Linked DNA regions of Homo sapiens. The protein of the gene in region 3 interacts with the protein of the main gene of each other region in a biochemical or structural test. Each region holds a gene or a part of one and is shown on either strand. Other genes may lie near its edges. The genes, in order: SPHK1, CFLAR, BIRC3 and HAX1.

The links.
Region 1: the proteins of BIRC3 (region 3) and SPHK1 form a complex in vitro, tested with the Homo sapiens proteins (one study listed by BioGRID).
Region 2: the proteins of BIRC3 (region 3) and CFLAR form a complex in vitro, tested with the Homo sapiens proteins (one study listed by BioGRID).
Region 4: the proteins of BIRC3 (region 3) and HAX1 form a complex in vitro, tested with the Homo sapiens proteins (one study listed by BioGRID).

The regions. Positions count from the first base shown.
Region 1 is NC_000017.11:76,380,715-76,387,626, forward strand, and holds the start of SPHK1 (sphingosine kinase 1), read left to right. Parts: upstream 1-3,894; 5' UTR 3,895-4,092; exon of another isoform or gene 4,093-4,391; coding exon of another isoform or gene 4,392-4,455; intron 4,456-4,563; exon of another isoform or gene 4,564-4,736; coding exon of another isoform or gene 4,737-4,930; coding exon 4,931-4,940; intron 4,941-5,228; coding exon of another isoform or gene 5,229-5,270; coding exon 5,271-5,423; intron 5,424-5,506; coding exon 5,507-5,601; intron 5,602-5,678; coding exon 5,679-5,794; intron 5,795-6,091; coding exon 6,092-6,872; 3' UTR 6,873-6,912. UniProt on the Homo sapiens protein: Catalyzes the phosphorylation of sphingosine to form sphingosine 1-phosphate (SPP), a lipid mediator with both intra- and extracellular functions.
Region 2 is NC_000002.12:201,126,148-201,133,175, reverse strand, and holds part of CFLAR (CASP8 and FADD-like apoptosis regulator), read right to left. Parts: exon of another isoform or gene 3,656-7,028; intron 3,448-3,655; 5' UTR 3,311-3,447; coding exon 3,030-3,310; intron 396-3,029; exon of another isoform or gene 148-395; coding exon 42-147; intron 1-41. UniProt on the Homo sapiens protein: Apoptosis regulator protein which may function as a crucial link between cell survival and cell death pathways in mammalian cells. Acts as an inhibitor of TNFRSF6 mediated apoptosis.
Region 3 is NC_000011.10:102,334,482-102,339,929, reverse strand, and holds the end of BIRC3 (baculoviral IAP repeat-containing protein 3), read right to left. Parts: intron 3,965-5,448; coding exon 3,710-3,964; intron 3,171-3,709; coding exon 3,129-3,170; intron 3,022-3,128; coding exon 2,828-3,021; 3' UTR 527-2,827; downstream 1-526. UniProt on the Homo sapiens protein: Multi-functional protein which regulates not only caspases and apoptosis, but also modulates inflammatory signaling and immunity, mitogenic kinase signaling and cell proliferation, as well as cell invasion and metastasis.
Region 4 is NC_000001.11:154,268,691-154,275,656, reverse strand, and holds the start of HAX1 (HCLS1-associated protein X-1), read right to left. Parts: upstream 3,029-6,966; 5' UTR 2,934-3,028; coding exon 2,881-2,933; intron 2,322-2,880; coding exon 2,059-2,321; intron 1,884-2,058; coding exon 1,696-1,883; intron 708-1,695; coding exon 656-707; intron 504-655; coding exon 397-503; intron 265-396; coding exon 174-264; intron 42-173; coding exon 1-41. Other genes in the region: UBAP2L (ubiquitin-associated protein 2-like), read right to left, coding at 5,362-5,457, 6,245-6,295, 6,703-6,900. UniProt on the Homo sapiens protein: Recruits the Arp2/3 complex to the cell cortex and regulates reorganization of the cortical actin cytoskeleton via its interaction with KCNC3 and the Arp2/3 complex. Slows down the rate of inactivation of KCNC3 channels. Promotes GNA13-mediated cell migration.

The DNA.
Region 1 (6,912 bases), on a different chromosome or scaffold from region 3:
CCTTGCAACCCCCTAGGCAGTAAAGTACCATAAAAAGGGAAAAACCGGAGTGGTGGCTCATGCCTATAACCCCAGCACTTTGGGAGGCCGAGGCAGGCGGATCACTTGAGGTCAGGAGTTTGAGACCAGCTTGGCCAACATGTGAAACACAAACTCTACTAAAAATACAAAAATTAGCTAGGTGCAGTGGCTCACACTTGTAATCACAGCTATTCGGGAGGCTGAGGCAAGAGTATTGCTTGAAACCGGGAGGCAGAGGTTGCAGTGAGCCAAGATCGCGCCACTGCACTCCAGCCTCAGCCTGGGCAACAGAGCGAGACTCTGTCTCAAAAAAAAAAAAAGGGAAAGAAGTTGAGGTCAAGGAAGACCTTGAGGCTATGCAATTAGGGAGCTGAAATCTCCTAGGGAAGGTAGCTTCAGGGAAGGGTGAGATGGCAGGAATCCTCTCCTCATAAAAGCAAGTAATTTGCCATCTGGCAGCCTTGACTCCAAGTTTCTGGAGAGCTGGGACCAGGCCAGGTGAATGCCTGCTTTCTTTCTCGGGAAAAGAAAAAAGGGGGTTCTCAGGTGTGTCTCCCTGGGGAGGCTGCCCACAAGGAAGGGGAGGCTGGGGAAGTTAGAAAAAGTCTCCCACCTGTGAAGCAGATTACCTGCAAGCCAAGCTCTGGGTTGGTGATCAAATCAGACCTCTCTGCCGGCCCAGGCCTGTTCCCAGGCCCACGGTGGGCCTTGCTGAGCACAGCGGCTGCTCAGCTGTTTCCAGACTCAGGATGAAGCCTGGGGAGGGCTTGGAGCTGCTTCCTCTTTCTTTTTTTTTTTGAGATGGAGTTTCGCCCTGTCACCCAGGCTGGAGTGCAATGGGACGATCTCAGCTCACCACAACCTCTGCCTCCTGGGTGCAAGCAATTCTCCTGCCTCAGCCTCCCAAGTAGCTGGGACTACAGGTATGCGCCACCACACCCGGTGTAGAGACGGGGTTTGAGACGGGTTTCTCCACGTTGGTCAGGCTGGTCTCCAACCCCCGATCTCAGGTGATCCACCCACGTCGGCCTCCCAAAGTGCTAGGATTACAGGAGTGAGCCACTGCGCCCGGCCTGCTGCTTCCTCCTCCTCAGGGAGACGCCACAGCTCTGCGGCAAGCAATCCACCAGGCACCAGATCCCCAGATACCTGCCCTTCAGGGAGAAATAGCCTGGGATACAGAGAGGCCCAGAGGGGAGCTCTGGCTGGACTTGGCTTCTCAGCGTGGGGTCTGGGTTCACAGGTTTGCTTCTCTGCTTTGTGGGGAACTGGTTGGAGGCTTGTGCAAGCCTCTTCACCTCTCAGGGTTTCAGGCCCCCCCAACTCCTTCCCGCCTTGTCCTTTTTTCTTTTTTAAAAAAGGAAGTAAAGTACAGTGGGAAACGGGCCAAGCTGGCAGCTTGAGAGATCCAAGTGCCCGCCCCCCGACCCGCAACCGTGGGAAGGGGAACCATCTTGCTCTTGGCCAATCCTGCCTCTCTGAGCAGGGATGCAGCTGGGGGAGTTTCTGGAGATAGGATCAAATTCTTTAGAAAGGGAGAAGGGGAAAGGGGTCTGGAGAAAGGCAGCCTGGGTTGGGGGAAGTGAATGACAAGAATGAGGGGGGCAAAGGCCTTGGAGGTGAGGGGGGCAGGGGGTTAGGCGCCAGGGAGGACAGAGGACCCATTGTGCGGCCTGGAACCGGGGCCAGAGGGCTTTGCCCTTCGCCTCCCTCCCGCGGGGCCTTCCAGAGCCAGGAGGGGAGCTGGGGCCCGGAGGCGTTGGATAAAGAGCCCGTGCCCCGCCTCCCCTTGCCAACTCAGTTTGCAGTCAACCCCGCCCCCGCCCGCTCCGCGGACTCAAGGCTGGTGGTAGTGGGCCTGGAGGCGCAGGATCCGACCTTTCTGGGGCCCCAGGAGGAAAAAAAAAGGGGGGACCCTGAACCAGGTGGGCTTTATCACCACGAACTCACAGTGCTTCCCTGTGCCTCAGTTTCCCCTCTTCAGACTCTATGGCTAATGACAGAGCTTTTCAGATTTGGTGGAAATGCTCTCCGGGGCGGGGAGCAGACGGGGAAGGCTGCCCCAGCTAATCTCCGCAGCCAGTACCCTCGAAGGCTGAGATCTCGGGGAGCACAGCCTCCGATTCGCGTTTTCTAGGCACCAAAGTCCCTCGCTGGAGGAAGAGGAGGGGAAGAAGGCAGAGGAGAGGGGAGGGGCGGACGGATCTGGTCCTGGGCTCCCGCGCGGAGCCCCCTCCTCCCACAGCCGCCGCTCGCGTCCCCGCAGCGCATGACCGCGGCACTGCGGCTGCAGGGCTCTCTCCCCCGCCCGCGCCGGATTCCTGGAGCAAGGGGGTGGGGGGCTCGGAGGTGCAGGACCCATCATTCCGACACGCGCCGCGACGCCAGGAGTCGGGGATGACGCCCCTGCTCCCTCCCCTCGTTCCTGTTTCTCGGAGTTTTTCGACCCCTGAGCGCGTCGCTGAGTCACCTTCCCGGAACGCGCTCGGGACGCTCTGGACCCAGCGGGGACTGCCCGGGGGCCGCGCAAGGCGAAGGCGCACCCGCCGATACGCGCGCGGAGCTGCGGCCCCAGGGACCCCGCGTCCCAGCCAGTGCCCCCCGACCCGCCCGGGGACTCTCGGGTCCCGCCCGTCTGACCCCCCAAGTGTTGGGAAACGGGGCCGAGCTGCCTGGGTCCTCCGGAAGAGAAGACACCGCGGAGGCGTGCCGGAGTTCAGGGCGCCGCCCGGCTAATTGGCTGCGTGCTCCTCCTGGACCTGCCTCTTCTCGACTTTAAGAAGCGATGAGAGAGGTGTGTGGGGGCGGGTGGGGCCGGCGGGGGCGCGCGAGCCCCGCAGCCTCCCGCAGGGGCTTGGTTTCTCCTAACTCTGGCCCTACCTGGGCAGGTCACCAATGGGCCTTGGCAACTTCTTCCTCCGTCTCCGCCGTAACCCCCCAGGGATCTAACTCGAGGTGCTCGCGGACACGTTCTGTGGCTTGCCGCGATAAGTGTATCACAAACACACTGACAAACGCGTCCCTACTGGCCTCCAAAGAAGTGACAACTTCTGAGCGCGTTTCCGGCGCCCCTTCTTCACGCTGAGCCAGAGGGGGCGGGGGGCACGTACCACATGCTTGGCTTTCCAATCCCGACGGGGGCCCCCAGGCCCATCTACACTGTCAAGCCTCCTCTCCGGCTCGGAGCCCCCGGCCTGTCGCCTGCTCTACCCGGGACAGCGCGCTAGGCGGCCTCAGGCTCGGTAGCCCAGCTGCAGCGTCGGGAAGTTAAAAATAACCTCCGTGGGAGCGCGGGGGAGGAAGAAAGAGGGAAGCTGGTGGGCGGCGGGCGAGACGCCCCGGCCTGGAGAGGCGCCCCGGGTGGCGTGCGGGCCTCGAATTTCGGGTGGGCTAGGGCAGAGCGCGCAAAAGGGGCGCTGCATCCCGGCGCCGACAGCACCCGCGGGGGCGAGGTCGTGGCGTCGAGGTGAAACCAAGGGTCCCCCGGGAGAGCGGAGCCGCGCGCGCCCGGCGCTCGCTCCGACACGAGTTCGCGCGGAGCCCGCGCCTCCGTCTGCGCTGCGCGGTCGCTTTCGCGCGCCCCAGACACTGCGCTCGCGGCCGGGCCCGGGACTCCGCGCCTCGCGGCCTGCCGCCTCAGCTCACCCGGCCAGGTCGCGGCGCCGCCTTCTAGCCAGACGCCTAGGACGAGCGGCGGGGGCGCGCTTGCCGCTTCCTAGGACCCGGGCGGGAACCAGCTCGTGGCCCGGCCGTGGGCGCGGGCCGTGCCGGAGGCGGCGCGCTGAGGCCGGAGGCGGGCAGAGGCCGAGGCCGCGCCGGGCTCAGGTTCCACCCCCGGGAGCGCGGGGCGGAGCCAGGCCGGCGCCGAGGCTCAGTGCCCTCCCCGCTCCGCGGCGCCGGCTGCGAAGTTGAGCGAAAAGTTTGAGGCCGGAGGGAGCGAGGCCGGGGAGTCCGCTCCAGCGGGGCGCTCCAGTCCCTCAGACGTGGGCTGAGCTTGGGACGAGCTGCGTTCCGCCCCAGGCCACTGTAGGGAACGGCGGTGGCGCCTCCCCAGCAAACCGGACCGACTGGGTAGGGCCGCCCACCCTGCCTTCGCGCCGCTCGTGGCTCCTGTGCGGCCCGCCCTCGCGGGGCCCCGGGAACTGGGCCACTTGTCGCTTGGGCGAGAGCAGGCGGCAGCTGGTGGCCCGGTTCGGGCTTGGCTTTGGCGCGACCCGGGAGCGGCTCCCACGAGCGCCGCGCGCGTCGCAACGGAGCGGGGCCCTGAGAAGCGCGCGCCGCGGCTCCCACCGCTCTGGAGCTCCGGGCAGGGGACACGGCAACCTGGATGGCTGGGGCAGGGATCCTCTCCCAGAACTTCGTGCCCAGCAATGTCCGCTCAAGTTCTGGGATTTTTACGCAGCTGGACTCCCCTCCCCCTGGCAGCCCCGAGGGGTGAGGAGCTAGTCCGTCGGAGGGAGCCACGGGGCTCTGACTCATCCGTCGGGCCGGAACCGAACCCCAAGCCCCAGGGAGAAAGCCCCGGAGCAGGCGCCCTTCTCAGGGATTGTAGGCTTAGTCACACGGCGGGGGCGCCCTCGGAGGCACCGGACCTCAGCTCTCTGGACTTCCCGGGAACCTGGCTCCCCGCGCGTGGTCCCGGGATTTAGTCGGGCGCTCCCCACCTCTGGCAGCTGCGGCCCCGGACTCCGCCAGCGCTGTCTTCTCTCCCTCAGGTCCAGCCGCCGCAGGGAATGACGCCGGTGCTCCTGCAGCCACGGCTCCGGGCGGGGAAGGCGAGCCCCACAGCCGGCCCTGCGACGCCCGCCTGGGCAGCACCGATAAGGAGCTGAAGGCAGGAGCCGCCGCCACGGGCAGCGCCCCCACAGCGCCAGGGACCCCCTGGCAGCGGGAGCCGCGGGTCGAGGTTATGGATCCAGGTTTGTGGGGTTCCTGCTGGGAAGGGCTGTAGGGGGATTCCTGTTCCTCGCCAGGAATGATGGAACGCCCAGCTGGACGAAAGGGGCTGTGGACGATCGGGAGAAACATTATCCCTCACGAGGCCAGAAGCCGGCCGAATCTGAGCCAAGGAAGGGGGTGGCAGGGGCGCCGCGTCCCCACCCCAGGTCTCCCAGCAAAGGCCGCTCCTCTGGCCAGGGTCAATTACCGGGGTGTTTCGGGCACCAAGTTCCCACACTAGTGCCCCATTGTTACCCGTGGCCCCCTAGTGGTCGGTTGCGGACGTGGCCTCTTTGGTTTTGTTTTCTCAGCGGGCGGCCCCCGGGGCGTGCTCCCGCGGCCCTGCCGCGTGCTGGTGCTGCTGAACCCGCGCGGCGGCAAGGGCAAGGCCTTGCAGCTCTTCCGGAGTCACGTGCAGCCCCTTTTGGCTGAGGCTGAAATCTCCTTCACGCTGATGCTCACTGGTGAGTACCTCTCGGAGGGGGTTTCGGGAGCATCCCCTGGCAGGGGACCCCCCCAGTCCTGATAGCTGCCGGTCTCCCTGCAGAGCGGCGGAACCACGCGCGGGAGCTGGTGCGGTCGGAGGAGCTGGGCCGCTGGGACGCTCTGGTGGTCATGTCTGGAGACGGGCTGATGCACGAGGTGAGGACCGCACTGCGCGGCTAGGCCTGGGGCTTGGCGCGGTGCGTCCCAGGCTGAGGCCACGTGTGCTTCAACAGGTGGTGAACGGGCTCATGGAGCGGCCTGACTGGGAGACCGCCATCCAGAAGCCCCTGTGTAGCCTCCCAGCAGGCTCTGGCAACGCGCTGGCAGCTTCCTTGAACCATTATGCTGGGTGAGAGCCCAGGGCCAGAGTAGGCCTGTTTCCCGTCAGTGCTCCTCTACCGCGGGGGTTTTCTTGTCTAAGCTCCCATAGGCTGAGATCATTTCCATTTCCCCTTCTCCCTTAGTCCTGGGGCCCTCTCCTGGTGACCCCAGCTGACTGCTTCCATTTGCTCCATCTGTCACCTACCAGTCCTGCCAACTCCCCAGGGACCACATGGCGCTTTGCCAGCTCCCACTCCCCGGGAGGAGGAAGCGGGGGATACATGGGGGCTCCTGTCCTGCCTTATCTGACTTTTTCCCCCTGCAGCTATGAGCAGGTCACCAATGAAGACCTCCTGACCAACTGCACGCTATTGCTGTGCCGCCGGCTGCTGTCACCCATGAACCTGCTGTCTCTGCACACGGCTTCGGGGCTGCGCCTCTTCTCTGTGCTCAGCCTGGCCTGGGGCTTCATTGCTGATGTGGACCTAGAGAGTGAGAAGTATCGGCGTCTGGGGGAGATGCGCTTCACTCTGGGCACCTTCCTGCGTCTGGCAGCCCTGCGCACCTACCGCGGCCGACTGGCCTACCTCCCTGTAGGAAGAGTGGGTTCCAAGACACCTGCCTCCCCCGTTGTGGTCCAGCAGGGCCCGGTAGATGCACACCTTGTGCCACTGGAGGAGCCAGTGCCCTCTCACTGGACAGTGGTGCCCGACGAGGACTTTGTGCTAGTCCTGGCACTGCTGCACTCGCACCTGGGCAGTGAGATGTTTGCTGCACCCATGGGCCGCTGTGCAGCTGGCGTCATGCATCTGTTCTACGTGCGGGCGGGAGTGTCTCGTGCCATGCTGCTGCGCCTCTTCCTGGCCATGGAGAAGGGCAGGCATATGGAGTATGAATGCCCCTACTTGGTATATGTGCCCGTGGTCGCCTTCCGCTTGGAGCCCAAGGATGGGAAAGGTGTGTTTGCAGTGGATGGGGAATTGATGGTTAGCGAGGCCGTGCAGGGCCAGGTGCACCCAAACTACTTCTGGATGGTCAGCGGTTGCGTGGAGCCCCCGCCCAGCTGGAAGCCCCAGCAGATGCCACCGCCAGAAGAGCCCTTATGACCCCTGGGCCGCGCTGTGCCTTAGTGTCTACTTGCAGGAC
Region 2 (7,028 bases), on a different chromosome or scaffold from region 3:
GATAGGCTCCTGGGGCCATGAACCAAAAGAAGAAAACTCACCTTCTCCTTGCTTATCTTGCCTCGGCCCATGTAATCCTTCATGAGGAAAATTAATGAGGACACATCAGATTTATCCAAATCCTCACCAATCTCTGCCATCAGCACTCTGCAAACCAGACAAGTTCATTTAGTTAATTCAGACATCAGTCCTAAGACAACTCCAAGTGCCCACGCCTCCCCTATGCAACAATGGATTAAAAGACTAGTTCTTGCCCCTGTGTAAATATGTCCCTCCCTCATAAAACAGCAAGCCTAGATCACCCCAGGAAGAGATCTTAAGGGACCTCAGAAAAGGGAACTTGTCCTTGCCCGTTTAATAGGAGATGGTACATCCTTTGCCAACTAACAGTTTCTGAAAACAACTCAGAGAATGGAAACTTCCTTAAAGAATCCCCTAGCTCCCCCAGAGGTTACAGTGAAATGACTTAAGAACCCAAATGACTAACATAAAAGACAGAAATAGAATTTGAAGTAGCCTTCTCTGTTTAACAAGCTCTCAGGTGATGTTGATTCAAGGACCATATTTTGAATTGCAAGATGCTAAAGGAAAGAAATACCTGAGATACCCTGGCCCACCTCTGAACTCAAAGGGTACAGGCATCTGGATCACAAGGATTCTGAACTTAGATGTCTTTGCCTAGAAAGCCTCTCCTGACTCACTGGTGGCTGGAGCTAACACTATATATATATATATATATATATATTTTTCCCCCCCTAGGAAATAGACTTTGAGAACCAACAACCACACTTTTCTGGGGCTCCTAAGGACACCCTGTGGTTAGTATTGTTACCATGACATTGTCATCAAGGCCATTTTCCCAGTTAGGCTCTCAGATTCTTGAGGATGGCAGACTTTTCATTTTGTCCTAGAGCTTACCAAAACACTTAGCACCAATACACAATGAAGCCCACTCACCAGATGAATAAATAAATCTAGCACTCCTCTTCAACTGCCCCCGCAACCCTTCCCAGAGGGCCTGAAGAATCTCCACTCATCATAGCAAGGAAATGGGAAATGGAGAGATTGCCCTATTCACTGAAACTCAGTTGGTGCCTCCCGGAAAGTCTGAAGATTACTGACATTAAAACTGATGGCTGAATAGGTGGAAGATTAAAAAAATAATAATAATAACAATGATAATAATCCCTTCTATCTGTAGAGTGCTTCACAGTTTAAAAAGTACTTCACATAGTAAATTATTACAACTGATGCTCACAACAACCTTGTAAAGTCAGGTATTATTATTTTTCGCTTTACAAGTAGGAAAACAGAGGCCCAACAAGGTTAGTGATTGGCCCAGCCTGCCTGGCCCATAATTGGTAGATCTGAGGCTTGAAACAGGTCTTCCAGCTACAATGAGCTATGATCATGCCACTGCACTCCAGCCTGGATGACAGAGCAAGACCCTGTCTCAAAAACAAACAAACAAACAAAAAAACAAAAACCAAAAAAACAGGCTTTCCAAGTTCAAATCTCATATACTTTCCAAAGCCCACACTGCTTTCAGCTCTCTTTAGTATAGTTCTTGATAATAATTATCATCTCCAAATACACATTATCAACATAATAAAAGGCTGGTGGTCGAGAGAAAAAACACCGGCTGGGCATGGTGGCTCACACCTATAATCCCAGCACTTTAAGAGGCCAAGGAGGGCAGATCACTTGAGGCTAAGAGTTCAAGACCAGCCTGGCCAACATGGCAAAACCCTGTTTCTAGTAAAAATACAATAATTAGCCAGACATAGTGGTGCGTGCCTGTAATCCCAGCTACTCAGGAGGCTAAGGCAGGAGAATCACTTGAACCCAGAAGCAGAGGTTACAGTGAGCCAAGATCGCACCACTGCACTCCAGCCTGGGCTGCAGAGCGAGACTTTGTCTCAAAAAAAAAAAGAAAACACCAACTTAAGGTTACAAGTTATCTTCCTTTCCCCAGGAAGTCAGTCTCTCAGTAGCTTCCATGCCCCTCTGAACCTCTAAAGACATTAACATGTGAACAGGAGGAAGGAGCAACCCAAAGCTTGTGGGAACTAAAGCAGACTCCAGTGGCCATTTCCTCTTTGGACTGAAGGGACTTAAATGTGGTTAACTGAAGAGATTTTCAATGTGGGCTCTCCAATGTCTCCAAGCGCAGGAAGTGCAGGAAGGGAGCCCACCCTGATAAACTTCCTCAGCAGGGTAGGGCCAACAGGGATTCAGAAGGGATGATGGAGTCTCTACAAAGGTAGGAAGATTACTGTCAGACTTGTTATTTCCTTTCTTTGTACCACAAATTATCAAGGACTGACTTCACAGAAAATGAACTAGTAAACACTGCTGCAGATCTCACACTGTCAGAGGCTGGCAAGAATGACTAGCTCTTAGTCATTCCTATCTTTCTTCACGTCTTGTCATTCTATCCTTCAGGCAAACACATACCAGCTGCCCTTCTACCTGCATATGATCCCAATTCCTTTGAGAAAGCATGTTTCAGCTGGAGGCAATGGCTCATGCCTGTTATCCCAGCATTTTGGGAAGCCAAGGCAGGTGGATCACTTGAGGTCAGGAGTTCAAGACCAGCCTGGCCAACATGGTGAAACCCCGTCTCCACTAAAAATACAAAAAAAAATTAGCCAGGCATGGTGGCGCACGCCTGTAGTCCCAAGTACTTGGGAGGCTGAGGCAGGAGAATCGCTTGAACCCAGAAGGCGGAGGTTGCAGTGAGCCAAGATCACGCCACTGCACTCCAGCCTGGGCAACAGGGTGAGACTCTGTCTCAAAAAAAAAAAAAAAAAAAAAAAAAAGAAAGAAAGAAAAAGAAAGCAAGAAAACAAGTTTCAAGAATTTAAAGGGCTCACAGGAATGAAGTGACATCATCTGGCAGTTGGATAAGTGGGCAGAGACAGTAAAGTGGCTGCACTTCTTATTATCCTCGTTTCTGCCATTCAGTAGAGTCTGAGACACTTCACTCCCTCCCACCCACCCAGCCTCAGGAAGAGTTGATGAATTACCTATAGTCCGAAACAAGGTGAGGGTTCCTGAGCAGGTGGGTCTCCACAGCTTTTCTGTCCATCTTCAAGATACGTTTGAGCAGGTCAAATCGCCTCACTCTGTAGAGCAGTTCAGCCAAGTCCCCGACAGACAGCTTACCTCTTTCCCGTAAAATATCCAGAAGGTCCCTGACATTAGGTGGAACCACATCTATAGCAACATCCCGGCACAAAAAGAGCAGCATCTCCTTCTCATCTGTATCAAGTGCTTCTTCAACCTGATGGATGACTTCAGCAGACATCCTACTCTTAGACTAGGGAAGCTCACAAGGGTCTTGCAGTACAGCTCCGGGCCAGTCAACAGAAAGCCAGCAGGCAGTCAACTTCATTTCTGAGGGCTGACTTCATTTCTTTCAGAATCCTTTCCAGTGGGGGAGTTCTGTGGTTAAAAGGGAATTTTTCTGAAAATCTTATCAAGCTAACTTATGCCTAAGATTGAAAGTATGGGCTCTTTCCTTCTGGGTGGTCTCCCTGACTTAAGTAGATTAAGTTCTATAGAAAGGGATCTATAGAAGTCTAAAGAAAGGGATCCTTGGTAGACAGAACCAAAAACAGACTAATCCAAAAAGACAGAGAAGAAAACCTACATTGTAAAGGAAATGAAACAACAGATGAACTCATCTGCAAGGAAACCCCACATTCTTTTTCAGAATTCATCAGAATGTAAAGCATGTTCAGGGAAAATTACAACTAAGGGTTTAATGGCCTCAGTAGGAGGAATAGGGAAGAAGTACGTAGTAGAAGGAAGTGGGAAAAGCCCAACGACAGACAGCCTGACTAAATCAGGGAAACTTATGTCACAGAGTTAAACCTCCACCTCAATGACTCCACCCACGTGGCCTTGAACAAACAATGGAGAAAAGAAGTTTCTGTCCCTGTGCCACTCCTTTTTTCTAGTTGCTCTCCTACTTCAAAAGCCCCTCACTCACACCTGAGGGCAGAAACCTCTGCTGCCATCCTCCTAGACCCCAAGCCCTTTTCACAACATCATGAATGCTCACAGAACCTGCCACCAAGTTGTCAGGTTTGGATCACGTCTTCAGACCCTGAGCCCCATGGAGGTGCCAGAGGCCCTGACTCTCAATGCACTGCTACATGGCAGCAATTGCCATTAGTGCTTCTGATGTTCTCAGTGGAACATCTGGAAGTTACAGAGGATCTGGGGAAAGATCTCACTCCTGGGAGGGGGCTGGGTAGGAGGGGTAAGGAGCTCATGCAATGGGTGTGTTCTTAATTTCTTCCATTGAAACTCATCCTATTTTCTTTCAAAATTTAAGTTGCTAACCTATCTACTCTAAGTTTCACAGCTAAAACTTATGTTAAATCACCTCTTGTGTTCTTTATCTGTTCCTACAAGACAATATTTCAGGTTAAAATCAAATTTATTAACAAAAAATAAGTGGAAACACAACCCAACTCTAAATTGCCAATGGTTGCTTTGTATTTGTGTTCAAGTATATTTATATATTTATCTAGCTGTATTTAGTGAAAGAAGCACTGAATCCATTTATTTATATACATACAGTATCAGTCCACAAAAGATTTGAGCTATCTTAAAATAAAAACACATAAATAGAAAAATTTTATATGAAAACAAGAGGAAAAATTAGGTTAGAAATTTGAAATGGGCTTGCCCATTCATCCCAACTTCACTTAAATATGATTATTTGTAAATAACTGGAGAAATTAAATTTGCTAAGTTAAATTTACTAAAATTAAATGTGCTCAATGAAAGTGGAAAAATTGGCACTCAGACTATTTTACTTTTTTTTATCAGAAAGATAAATACAAATTTTATGTGTTCTGGACAGCCCAAATCTATACTCCACTCGCAGGCCAACAGTGCTTTAATCTCATCATCAGCTTCCATGAAAAGGAGGCCAAGTTCTTTTCTACTGTATTAATGAATAGTCACAATTTTGTCAACAGTTGTTATTATAAATTAAAGTATAAAATATATGCAGTAGAAGGAATTATAAAAACACAAAAATAAAATCATTAAACACAAGACTAAGAAATGAGATATTATACAAATTCACTGACATATTTGAAAAAGAACCAAACAGAACTACTAGAAATGAAATGCTTAATTCTCTATTTTTTTACAGTCATCTAACTTTTGTAATTCATAAGTATCAACAATATAACAATGCCACCAAGAGTTAACAAAATGAGATAATCATTTTAAAAAACATTATCTGCTCAGTTTGTTTCTTCCAACCATCACACCCATGACTGCTTTCTGCCAGTCACGCACACTCAGCAAGAGCACTGGCATACTGTCTTCCCTCTGTGCTAACGGGGGTAGAGTTTGGCAGCAAAATCTAGATTACTCAGTGGTAGCATCTGGCACATTGAAAGAAAATATCAAAAGGAAACTACAGATCCCGTGTGGAGCCAGCCCACTCAGATGCAACAAAATAGCAGCGTGTGTGTATGCTGGAGGCAGTTCACTGTGGCTAGAGGTGGTGAGTACTTGAGAAAGGAGAGCATACTAGGGAGAGGTAGGGCTGGGGTCCGAATAATCACCACTTTGTTGGGGTTTAAGCCCAAGCCAAGAAATTAACATAAAAATTACTCTTAGACTAGGGAAGCTCATAAGGTCTTCAGTTTTTTGTAGGGAAAGGGTCCCACTGTGTTTCTCAGGCTGGTCTCAAACTCCTGGGCTCAAGTGATTCTCCTACCTCAGCCTTCCGAAATGCTGAGATTACAGGTGTAAGCCACCACACCCAGATGAATGAGTTCTTTAGAGCCCAGTAAAAGACTTGTGCCCATCAGTTACCAACTCCACCCTGCCTGAGCTGCTGGACTCAGTGTCCCATTCGCCTCTTCTGAAGAGTCACTTGCTTTCACCTTACTCAGATGAAGGGGCAAAGGAATATCCAAGTCCAATTATTTTTCTTCCCTGCTTTCAAATACCCAATCCTCCTGACTGATCAAGATACCATTAGCTTCATTTCTCCCCCCAAGTGTTTTCAGCAGTTTACTTTTCCCTAGCCAGACAAAATTGGCACCTGTGTGTGTTTTCTAGAATTTTAAAGGAATTCCCCTTAACTCCCCTCACAGGCATATTCTAATTTAATGACTATATCTCCCCTTCTTTTCCACACCCACACCCTGGTACAAACTGTCCCTGACCTTCACAAGAGCAACTAAAACTTGAGACCAATTTCTGTTTCATTTCTCTTGCAGAAGTCAAGAGACTATCGCCAATTATTATTCAAAACATCAACAAAGCTTAGGCAAGTCAGAGTTATCTTTCACACACTAGCTAACAGGAGCATCCGGTTCTGGAAACAGAAATATTCCAGGCATTTTTTGTAGAAATTACACTTAATACTGGAACTAACAAAACTGCTGAGAGGACTGGAGGAAGGAGCTCTGGGGTGGGATTCTAACAAAGACTCCTGGGGCTGCTGCAACAACCTTGCCTCAGCCAGGGAAGTGAGGATCAGGAGGCTGCCACTAGAACTGAGCTCAAAGACCCTCTGACAGTGGAGACCCAGTGATCATGTAATGCCCAACCTTGTTTTTACTAACGCTGTTTTTAGACTCTCCCTTTCCTTTAATCACTTAGCCTTGTTTTCACCTGAATTGACTCTCCCTTAGCTAAGAGAGCCAGACAGACTCCATCTTGGCTGTTTCACTGGCAGCCCTTCCGCAAGGACTTAACTTGTGCAAGCTGACTCCCAGCACATCCAAGAATGCAATTAACTGATAAGATACTGTGGCCAGCAATATCCGCAGTTCTCAGGAATTCGTCAGATTGATAACGCCCAAAGCCCCGCGTCTATCACCTTGTAATAGTCTTAAAGCCCCTGCACCTGGAACTGTTTACTTTCCTGTAACCATTTATCCTTTTAACTTTTTTGCCTACTTTACTTCTGTAAAATTGTTTTAACTAGACCCCCCCCTCCCCTTTCTAAACCAAAGTATAAAAGAAAATCTAGCCCCTTCTTC
Region 3 (5,448 bases):
TGCCTGGAATTTTCTTTCTTTTTAATTATTTATTAAGACATGGTCTTACTATGTTGCCCAGACTGGTCTTGAGCTCCTAGACTCAAACGATCCACCTGCCTTGGCCTCCTAAAGTTCTGGGATTACAGGTGTGAACCACTGCATCTGGTCTTGAATTTTCTTAGTAACATACATAGTGTCTACTATGATGTGCAAGACAACAAAAGGAGGTGACATCTTCTCCAATAGGAGCTGAATATGGTTCAATCACATTGCCTGTGACCACAAAGGAACTTAATGGCTAATGGTATCAAGCGATATAAGGAAATTAAGAGAAAGGTTGGAATGGAAGCTATAATGAGCATGGCTGAAGTATGAAATTAAGCCTGCTGCAAAGTCCTGTATGATCACACTTAATATATTGAGGTTTAAACCCAATGACTGAAGACCACGTTGGCTGGTAGGTGGGGTTGGAGGCAATCAAATGGATTAATGCATGTCAAGCACCTGAAAACATCTGACATTTGGTCAGCAAATAGATCTACCATTATTATCTATGGTGATTTATTTTTTCCAAAACAAAATGTCAAAATAACACTTAGGGAAATAACATATTTGAATAAATGGGTTGGTTATAATAGCTATTTATTACCATAATGAGAAATGAACAAAAGTTTTACAGTGAGATGACAAAGTTCAAATATTATCTGTAGTATACAAGAACTAGATAAAAAAAAAAACACATGGTGCAAAAAGGGTGCCTACTATTTAAATACCCTATACCTGAGTTACAAATCACCTAAGCACAATTACAAATAATTCAGCCTAGCACCCATGCAGGACACTGGCTAGTACATGGGTAGCCAGCAGAGCCTCTTAGCAGAGGCAAAATCAATTGCATTTCAAGGAAATAAGTCTCCCAGCATCAGAATGCAGAGATGGATTCTTTCCTCCCCTCACTTGGTCCCTAATTGTTCTCTTTACAACACTAGCAGATGTTGGGGCTCAGAAAACCCAAAGTGAAGGCCTCAGAAGCAAAGTTTTTCTCTGATGTTATCCTGCCCTCCTGTCTCAGCCTCATTCTCCCTGAAGGCAAGCCACAGAAACTTGAATTCCTCTTCCCCAAGGTAGGTCATAGAAACTGGAACCATCTTTCCACAATGCCAGACTTACATCTTAAAGATAGTACTCTAATCTTTCCTCACCTAACTATGTAAGAGCTGGCCATAAATAAATTCTCTGACCTACCTTGCTTGATAGCAGGTTATAATATCCCCATCCCATACAGGCCCTGCCCTATATCCAGGAGGAAGGAATGCTGCACAGAGACCAAGAATAATCTGAACAGACAGGCCTTGCTGGGTCCCCAACCTGTGTCTATTCCCATTAGATCATATCCTTTTTTTCCAATCACTATTCTTCAGGGCTGTCCATTCATTATCAAACCTAAGCATAAAAATGCACAGTTTCCCCTGTAATTTTGGATCTTCATTACGAAGGCTCCCCGGTGATGTAAATCTGTGATTAAATAAATTTGTTAAGTTTTTCTCTTGTTAACCTGTCTTTTGTTATAGGATTGTCAGCTGTGACCCTTATGAAGGGGTCTTTCCCTTCTGCCCTTACAGAGCCATCTGCCCCTATACAGACATCTAGAACTGGTTTAGATGACTAGCCTTTGCCTGCCTTCCCCTGAGTATTCCCTATTACAGTCTTACTTCTGCTCTTGAAGACCTAATACCTCTATAAGAAGCAAAGGACAGAGTTATGACTCGGACGTGTTGAGTACCAATAACATAATGCAGAGGGGGACATTTTGTTGCACTGACAATATGAAACAGATTTATTTACCAGAACAACCTGTTGGTCCCAAGCATTGCTAACCAGTGTACTTTCTAAGTTTCAGAATTAATACCAAAGAGATAAGAATAAAACTCAGACCTTCTTCCAATAGGTGGGGCTGGCATGAGACTTCTTGAATGAATCAATAGAGAAGTGAATAAACAAACTTACTAAAGGGACTGTTTGATTCTTGTCTCAGGCATTCCATAATAGATTTTATGATGTGTTGACCCCGTGTTCTACAAGTGTCAATGAAGAAGCATCTTATGGGAAGGAGTATAAACTGTAGTTCAATATTTGAGAGGCTTTAAGAAGGTATGGAAAGAGTCTGGGAGTGACTAAACTATCCAATGTCATTGAAATAAAGCAATGAAGAATAAGAGTAATTTTTGTTGCTTTATTAAATTTTTTCTCACAGAATTCTTTATAAAAACACCATGTCCCTAAAATGTCATTCAACATATATGCACACCTTCGATGTATAGGACACTGATCAAAAAAGACAGAGAAATGTGTCCCTGGTGTTTTGTTTTTGTTCTGTTTGTTTTTAAAGGCAGGGTCTCAGTATGCTGCCCAGGATGGATTCAAACTCCTGGGCTCAAGTAATTCTCTTGCCTCAGCCTGGGACTACAGGCACATACCACCACACCTGGCTTCATGTTCCCGGTATTAGTACAATGCCAAAATATTTAAAATTCTTAAAGGTTAACTCAAATATCTTAAGTTTTACTTCACTTACAATTTCAATAATGCTGAAATTTTGATTGAATATTGTGTTTGTAGTGCTACCTCTTTTTCGTTCATAAGAACAAAAGCCTATCATTCTCTTAGTTTCTAAAAAATATATGTTCATATGGTTTAGATACATATATAAATATGTTACACAAAACAATGTTTTTTGAGTTGTAAATAAATAAAAATTTTAAGGAAACCAAATTAGGATAAAAGTTAAAGTTATAATACATTTAATAAATTAATTCTAAAGTTTAGACGATGTTTTGGTTCTTCTTCATGAAAGAAATGTACGAACTGTACCCTTGATTGTACTCCTACAAATAGGACACTTTCTTAAAGAAGGAGCACAATCTTTGCATACTACTAGATGACCACAAGGAATAAACACTATGGACACTTCTTTGTCCATACACACTTTACATGTTCTTTCTTCTTGTAGTCTCCGCAATTGTTCTTCCACTGGTAGATCTAGAAAGAGGAAAGAATTTTTAATAAAAGGCAGTTTGCTTCTTCAGTGAAAAACTAAGAAAATAAAGACAATGTTCTCTATTGATTTAAAATATTAGTACTATTACCTGAAACATCTTCTGTGGGAATATATTTTATGTCCTGTTGCACTAAGGGAGAAAAAGAAAAAGCATTACTATGACAAATAAGGTTAATATTTAGCTATGGAATCTATTTTAAAAATGAACACTTTAGACTATAGCCAAATACTCATTTCAAGGCAACAGAAGTCTTTAATCTTTTTATGTAACTAATATCTATAAATTAGATTGATTTTTTTTTGAGACAGAGTCTGTCACCCAAGCTGGAGTGCAGTGGCACAATCACAGCTCATGGGAGCCTCTATCTCTCAGGCTTAAGCCATCCTCCCACCTCATCCTCTTGAGTAGCTGGGATTACCAGGCATACACCATCACAAATAATTTGTTTTAAAAATTTTTTGTAGTGATGGGGTCTCGCCACGTTGTCCAGTCTGGTCTCAAACTCCTGGGCTCAAGCAATCCACCTGCCTCAGCCTCCCAAGGTGTTAGGATTACAGGCATGAGTCACCACATTCAGCCTGAATTATTTTCAGTAGTCATAAATTATTAATAAGAGCGTATTTTCAATTGACTTAGAAAATTTTTAAAAATAATTTTCTATCACTCACCAAATAAATGCTCATATAACACAGCTTCAGCTTCTTGCAGAGAGTTTCTGAATACAGTGGCTGCAATATTTCCTTTTACTAAAATCGTATCAATCAGTTCTCTTGCTTGTAAAGACGTCTGTGTCTTCTGTTTAATAACATCATGTTCTTGTTCATTAATAATTCCGGCAGTTAGTAGACTATCCAGGATTGGAATTACACAAGTCAAATGTTGAAAAAGTGCCATTCTATTCTTCCGGATTAATAATAAATCATCTTTATAAAAAAGAAAACAAGCATAAACATGTTCAAACTCTGCTCACAAACTTCCTTCCAGTCCTATATATATAGCAGGATAAAAACTATCTTTAATTCGTAATCAGTAAGGCATTGATGTTGATTGCTAGGTTTAGGGGTGTCTCATCTCCTTTGCTTAATAATAATGTTATTATAATTATAATCCAGGGTGCAGTGGCACATGCCTGTAGCACCAGCTACTTGGGAGGCTGAGGTAGGAGGATCACTTGAGCCCTGGAGTCAGAGACCAGACTGGGCAACATAGCAATACCCTGTCTTAAAAAAATATAATAATAATAATAATAATGCTACTTATAGTAAGGACTAACATTTAGTGAGCACTGTGTTAAGAACTTTACATGTATTGATTCATTTCATCTTCACAACAGCTCTTTGAGGTAGGTCCTAATAGCCTCATTTAACAAATGAGAAAATGAAGCTGCAGTGAGGCAATTAAGTTGCCGAAGGACACCACAACTAGCAAAAATCAAACTGAGGTAGTCTGGTGTCATGTACTGTGCTTTCAATCATTTGGCAATACTGCTAAGCCTTTAACCAAATGGAACTTAGAACCCATTAAAATTGACGTTTCAATTCAATCTAGTCAAATTGGGGAAAGACAAAATCAAGAGAATTAAAACAATTTTTTCTTAAAGTGTCATTCTTCCATAAAATTTCTTTTATTATTTATTTATTCATTTTTAAAACAGAGTCTTGCTCTGTCGCCCAGGCTGGAGTGCAGTGGTGCGATCTCAGCTCACTGCAACCTCTGCCTCCCAGGTTAAAGCTATTTTTGTGCCTGAGCCTCCTGAGTAGTTGGGATTACAGGCATGTGCCACTACATCCAGCTAATTTTTTGTAGTTTTAGTAGAGATGAGGTTTCACCATGTTGGCCAGCCTGGTCTCGAACTCCTGGCCTCGAGTGATCCGCCCACTCCGGCCTCCAAAAGTGCTGGGATTACAAGTGTGAGCCATTATGTCCGGCCCATAAAATTTCTTTAAAATTCCATTTTAAGTTGAAATTTTAATTATTTCCAGAAATTAGACATATTGCCATTACCTAAATATTTTATAGTAAGCAGGGAAAGGCAGTAACAGCATTTTGAATAATAAACCCTATTTGTCAACGACTACCTTCTCGTCCTACAAGATATCATCTAATTCTCCTTCAAGACCTAGATTTTGTATCCATTGGTAAAACATTTTATATTTTAAAACTGCAGTTTTATTATCTCTTTGGAATATAACTTATGAATCTAAGTTTATTAATTTTCATATAGCTTACCATAATCCATAAAGCTGTTTCTAAAAAATAACTAATGACAGAGGCTGAGCTATCTGAAGAATTGTTTTGGGAGAGAGGATTGTTAGATTTTAGATACACTGACTTTGTCAAGTGATAGGACTCATAAAAAGAACCATTTAAGAAAGAATAAAAAATGGAAAAAAGAAAACAGCAAAAA
Region 4 (6,966 bases), on a different chromosome or scaffold from region 3:
AAAGGCATCATCCAGGGCTGGAGGTCTTGGTGATTCTGGATCTAAGGAAGAAAGTCATACACGTAAATAGGCTAAATGAAAGAGACTAGGCAGAAGCAAAGGACAAGGGTAGAAGAGTAAGATTTCCCTTCCCCAAGGAATCTTGAGATGAACCCCTTTGTCTTTTAACTTACCACCCCTAGGACTGCTATCTGCTTCGTGTCGGGTTACTGTAGTCTCTGTCCGGCCCTCACTGTCCACCACAGTCCGGCGCTCCTCCACTATCTACAAAGAGAAGTCCCCACCATATTCCGAATGTTACTAAAGGTTATGCTCAGCAGTTTCTTTACACAGATCCCTGTTTCAGGGCATTCGTTCCCTGGCCATACTTTCCTTTACCTCTTTCTTTCAACTCACCCCATCTGGTTTAGTGATCTTGGTCACAGAGATGCTCTTGAAATAGGATTTGGGCTGGGGCTGTAGAACCGGGCCAAGACCCTCCTGGGAAACCTGGGAATCAAGATCTGGAAGAGCAGAGAGATGAAGAAGCAGGAGAGAAAGAGTCCAAAGGAAAAAAGGAGACAAGTGTACAGGAAGAAACTTCAGGGAGGGAGAACACACAGAACTTCAGAAGAATAACAAAAGGCTGGTAAACTTCCCCTTCCTCCAGACTTACCATTGTCCTCTCTGGTTCTAGGATGGGGGTCCATAGGCCATACATCATCAAACTGCAGAAGAAACCATAGTAAGTGAAAAGACTCCTTCCAATCTGAAATTTGAAAGGTCATAGACCTCAAACTACTCCCGAGCTCCAAAACCCCCTTCCACAGAAGAGATAATTCCATTCAGAATAGCCTTATTTACACACTCCTTCCTGGCTGTTTTATGTATCCTTCTACCAGAAAGACTTCCTGAACTGATATATTCCTATCCTCTGTGCACAATCCTGCCTTATCCAAGAATTATCTAGACCAGTGGTGTTTTTTTGTTTTTGTTTTTTAAAAGAAACAGAACACCCATCTCCCCCCAAAGAAAATCCCACAAGCTTAATATAGAAAACAGAAAACACTAAATGGAGGGCTTAGGATTCCAACCCAAGGCTATCAGATTCAAACAAGAATTGCAATCTTTGGCCAGGCATGATGGCTCACACTTGTAATTCCAGCACTTTGGGAGGCCGAGGTGGGTGGATCACCTGAGGTCAGGAGCTCAAAAGCAGCCTGGCCAACACGGTGAAACGCCATCTCTACTAAAAACACAAAAATTAGCTGGGCGTTTGGCAGGCGACTGTAATCCCAGCTACTCAGGAGGCTGAGGCAGGAGAATCACTTGAACCTGGGAATTGGAGGTTGCAGTGAGCTGAGATTGTGCCACGGCACTACAGCCTGGGCAACAGAGCAAGGCTGGGTCTCAAACAATTTTTGAGATGGAGTCTCCACCTCCTGGGTTCAACCAATTCTCCTGCCTCAGCCTCCTGAGTAGCTGGCATTACAGGCACCTGCCACCATGCCCGGCTAATTTTTTGTATTTTTAGTAGACACGGGGTTTCACCATGTTGACCAGGCTGGTCTCCAACTCCTGACCTCTGGTGATCTGCCCACCTCGGCCTCCCAAAGTGCTGGGATTACAGGCGTGAGCCACCGCACCTAGCCAGTCTTTGCACTTTATTAGTGGTCTCTCACAAGCTCTCACTTCAGGACCAGATGGGATACTCACCCTATGAAATGGCCTCTGGGAGCCCCAGTCTGGTGCTGGTTGGGGGGATTCACTTCTTGCATCACTCTCCAAGACCCCCCCAAAGATCCTGGGCTGGTGACTATCTGGATACTTAAGCATTGAGTCCCGAAGTGTCTGTCCCTCCCGTAGTCTCTCACCAGGTGTCTCTGACTCAGGACCTGGAAGTTCTGCAGAAAGGTGGCAGGTGTTTGCTGGGATGGGAAAGGACTTGGGCTCTATTAATCTCTCTGAAATCATCAGTCTTCTCACACTTCCCATCCCCCAGCTACTCCCTGCAGGCTCTTTATTTCACCCACCAACCCACCAGAAACCACAGGTTGCCCCTTAGGGAAAGCCACACACCAGGAGGATGGGAAGGCAAGGTCCAGGCCCCCATATCGCTGAAGATGCTATTGAAATCTCGTACTAGGTCATCAAAGCCGAAGTTATCGTGGAAACGTATCCCTCCTCCTGGGCTGAAGCTGAAGCCGAAGCCAAATTCCTCAGGGGGGTGCTGAGGACTATGGAACCTTGGGTTCCCACGGCCCCATGAGCCCCCTTCTTCTTCTTCTTCCTCATCATCATCTTCATCTCGAGTCATCCCTCCAAAAAAGGGATCTCTGTGGCTGAGAGTGGAGGCAGATTGGCCACCAATATTTCAGCACTATTTAAGCCATTAAATCAACTCATGGGTGGCAAAGTGGGACAAGAGCAAGGGGTCTGGGAAGCTAGGGAGAGGGTCGGAGGACTGGCTGCCACATCAAAACATTAATACAATGGCTGACAGTTCTTTTTTTTTTTTTTTTTTTTTAATCAAAGTCAGACCTCAGCTCGCAGCTCCCTTCATACACCTTCCCCCAGTTTTTCTTCAGTGTGCCCCAGTCCCTCCTCTCTCTCCCAAGGTCCTGCTCACTTGCTCACTGTCTTATTCCCCAGACCCTCACGGTCTTCCCCGCCCGGGTCCCTGTTGCATCACCCCAGGTTGGAGAAAGGCTTAGTTTGCTGTTTCTCCTCTTAATGACCGCCTTGGTTACTGTGGCGGGGTGAGTGTTCAATGTTGCGACTTCTGTCCTCTCTGCAGGAGTTGAAGGAGTGGGACAGAGGATGTTTTTCCAAAAATAAGACGTAGGGGTCAAGCTCCCCTCAGACGACCCCCACCCTTGTCCGAGCCGGACCTACTCTCACCTCCGAGGTCCAGGAAAGCCGAAAAAGCCCCGGAAGAGATCAAAGAGGCTCATTCCCGTACTGGGACGCGAACCTTTGAACCCCTCCAGTGGTCCATTCGCAGACGGGGGAAACCTGCGCAGCCCTGTGAGAAATTGAGCGAGGCGTCAGCCCACGCTACCGGAAAGCAAGCCCGCGATCCTGACACTGTCGTAAACGACGGTAAGCCGGACGTGAAATGGAGGCGGGACCGAAGGTCTTCCTCAAATTTGAAAGGCTTTATCTTTACCCCACCTTTCAGAGACCAGTTTCCGTGACGGGAGTGGGCGTGACGCACTTTCAGTTTCCTATGACCGCCTTCCTCCTAAATCTGTTCTTCTTTCTGCAGACCAACTCAGTACGAAAAGCGATTTCGAGGGTTTGACTCTGGATGGCACCCGGATAAAGCCGCCAGAGGGCAGCCCAGCCGCACAAATGGACCGGCTTGAGGGCGTCCCTCAACCACCCCACCCGCGGGGCTGGCCAGCCTCACAGCAGAAGCCACCTCGCTCCTTACTCGGGCGTTCTTTTTGACTGACCTGGGCGATGTCTGCTGTTAGAGGGATGAACAAAATGCTTTTCCAAGCTCCTTCTAGTATTGAATTTCCCAGAGAAGAGATCAAGACATAAGAGACGCATGGACTTAACTTCCTCCACCTCTCTAGCTACTAGGGAGTTTGTTATAACTATATAGAATTCTTTTTTCTAAGCAGGCTCTGCAACCAGCAAGACAAAGGATTTTTAAGAAAGCAAGGGAAGGGAAGCTAGTTGAGTCCTGAGAAGGAACAAATTGGGGGTTATAAAGAAATATCCCTTTGGTATCTTTTTTTTTTTTTTTTTTTTTTTTTTTTTGAGACAGAGTTTTCTCTCATGTTTCCCAGGCTGGAGTGCAGTGGCACCATGTCGGCTCACTGCAACCTTCGCCTCCCAGGTTCTCTCCTGTCTCAGCCTCCCGAGTAGCTGGGATTACAGTCATGCGCCTCCACGCCCGGCTACTTTTGTATTTTTTGTAGAAACGGGGTTTCACCATGTTGACCAGGCTGGTCTCGAACTCCTGACCTAAGGTGATCCGCCCAACCCAGCCTCCCAAAGCGCCTGTCCTCATTCCTTTTTAAAAGTGTTTTGTTCAAAACCTCTCCGAGACCTGTCTCTCCCTGTACCCCATCCCCAAGCCAGACCTTGCTCTAGATTCTTTTTCAAAGAATTGGGTATAGCTATGTCACAGAGAAGCATCCAAGAAGCCACTACTACAGTAGTCCATTCCTAGGGGGAATGGGCCCCAAGGTTTTGTTTTTTTATTTCGTTTTTGGGGTACAGGTGGTGTTTGGTTACATGGATGAGTTCTTTAGTGATTTCTGCGACTTTAGCGCACCCATCACCCGAGCAGTGTACACTGTACCCAATATGTAGTCTTTCATCCCTCACCCCACTCCAAGATTTAGTTCTGCCAGACGATACATGTTGCCTTCACTTCTTTTTAGTTTATTTGCCTGGACCCATCTAAGTCATACTTAAAACTCTATAAAGCATTTTTTTTCTTTGAAATGGTCTCAGCTCCTTCTTGATCCTCTCCATTTTCCACCCAATCTCCTCTATCCCTCTCCCTTTACTGCCTGAAATCGGCTGTAGATGTAGCAGTTTCTGGAGGAAATGAAGATTTGTGGTGGTTCTTTCCAGTCACCAGGTTGTGAAAGTCTTAGGGGTGAGGGGAAGGAAATCCCCTCAAGGACAAGATACTACTACCACATTAAGGTCAGGAGTTCTTAAAGGGCGAAGATTTCATTTTATTCCACTGCCTTCAGGGGCCTGCTAGAGGAGGCCCAGTTGGTACAGTAATACTTATTCACCAAGCTGGTCATCGACGAAATTGAGGATGTCCTAGACGGAGCAAGAATAGGCAGAGGCTGAAGGTAGAGGTTTTCTTTTTATATATACAAGACACATTAATCCATTAAATTTGAGGACACAGTACAAAAAAAAAAAAAAAACAAAAAAAAAACCACTTCAACTAATTCATCTGACAATGCTGTTCATATTCATGACGCCATTTTTTTGTTTGTTGTTGTTGTTGTTTTCCTAATAATAAAGAAGGAGACTTAGGGCTGTTGGGCTGATATATGTTTGGGGGTCCCACCTCCCCGCCTCATCCGTACACCACCAGGGTGAACAGGAGGAAGCAAAGGAAGTGCAGGGCCCATAGCAAAGTTTCATAATCTTGAATGCAAGAGGGGAGAAGGAATGGAAGGGGGAAAAAAAAGGAGAAAATACAAATCCTATAATACATACAACAGGGTGGGGATGGTATAGGAATGGGACAGACATGAAGCTGAGGCATGGGGTGGGCCGCTGGGGGTGGGGGGCAGCGGAAACCCCCCACATTCCTTTCTCTTTGATGCTGTTTCCATAGTTTCCAGGCTGAGAAGCCCTCTCAGAAGATGGGACCGGGAGAAGAGGGTCAGGGCCTCAGTTGGCCCCCCAGCTGTAGCTGTTGTAGGCAGACTTGTTGGTCTGGGGCTTCTGCGGGATGGAGCTGGTCTGGCTACGTTGCCCGCTGCCCGTCTGCAGGGGAATGGGAGGATCATGAGGAGGAAAAAGGTGTCTAGTTAGTGGTACAAATTTGTAACATCTTCAGGTGGAGATGTGCAAACTGTCTTGCTCTCCCATTCCCCTCACTACTATTAGAACCATAGAAAATTTGGTCTGCATAGCTGCTAAAGCCCCTTTCTTACAAGCAGGAAGGCATTTTTGACTTTTAAATAGGGAAAAGATGAAGAGGGCAAGATACCTTTAGAGACAAGGTAGTGAGTGAGTTCTACTCATTTTCAATTCTACATTCTCACACTACCCCCTCTCTCCCCTGCTCTTGGAGATGGGTGATCACAAGGCAATTTCATTTCCATTGATCCCCATTAATGCCTCAATTTGGAAAGCTGTCTTTGAGGAAGGAAGCCCTTATTCTAGCTCCAGCCACCTATAATGGAGCTCTCAAGAGGCCACTTGCATCGCCCCACAGATCCCCACCCCTACCACACATCACATCTGTGAGCCCATTTCAGGCAGGTATGAGAGGCAGTCTGAGGCCTCAGGCTCCAGATGCTGCCCCAAGAATCTTTTCCATTCTGGTAACCGAATGTTTTCCACAGCTGGGGAAGGGTACAAAGATAAAGAGGGTGTTGGGGAGGGGAGGAGGAGAGAGGAAGGGGAGGCCAGAGAGCTCAGCAAGGTGTTTGTGTTTGTGTATCCCGATTTGTGACCGCGCAGTCTTTTCAAGTTCCCTGAGGCTGTGAAGGTGAAATGGGGACTGAAAAGGAGTGGGTTCAAGCATATGATCATTCAATTTCATTACCTGCTCCTCCTGCTGGCGCTGGCAACAGAGAATCATCTGCAAATATGGTAGCTGAGGCAGAACCAGGATATATGGAAAATAAAGGGACAAACTTTGACAATAGAACTCCACCATTAGAAGGGAAAGCTAAAATGTCAGGGAAGAGGGAAGGCTGGGAGAGGAAAGAGGGAAGGTGTGACCCAGGTCTGATGGGATGAGGACAACTGTGGCACAGGAGGAGAAGGGCACCAAAGGAATTGGGCAAAAAAGGTTTCAACCCGGCCCTTCTCTGAGATTTCCTTTGCCGGCCGCTCGTGTTATGTGCGCTTGTGTCTGTATGTGCTGTGTGCCCATGACTGGCGCTGGGGAGGGATTGGGTGAAGGTGGTGGTGAGGAAGGGTAAGAAAAGGAAAGGGAAGGCAGTTTTAAGGGATAGGAAGGAAGAGGAAGGGAAAGGAGAGAAGGGGAAGGGCTATTACCTGGCCATCCTGCTGCAGGTGATGGTGAAGGATCTGAGAATGCGGCTGCTGATGGGGGGTCAGAATGTGCATAAAGGGGGCAGGTGGGTAGGCAGCAGCTGTGGCCGGATTGATGGGGCCCCCACTTCCTAGGGCTGAAGGCAAGTTGAAGGAAGCAGCAGGAGTACCGGAATGAAAACCTTGTTTCTCAAAGGACTGCTATCCAGGAGGCCAGGAGGAGACAGAGTAAAAGGGATCAGCAAACTAGTCTTGGGATTTTTCCTG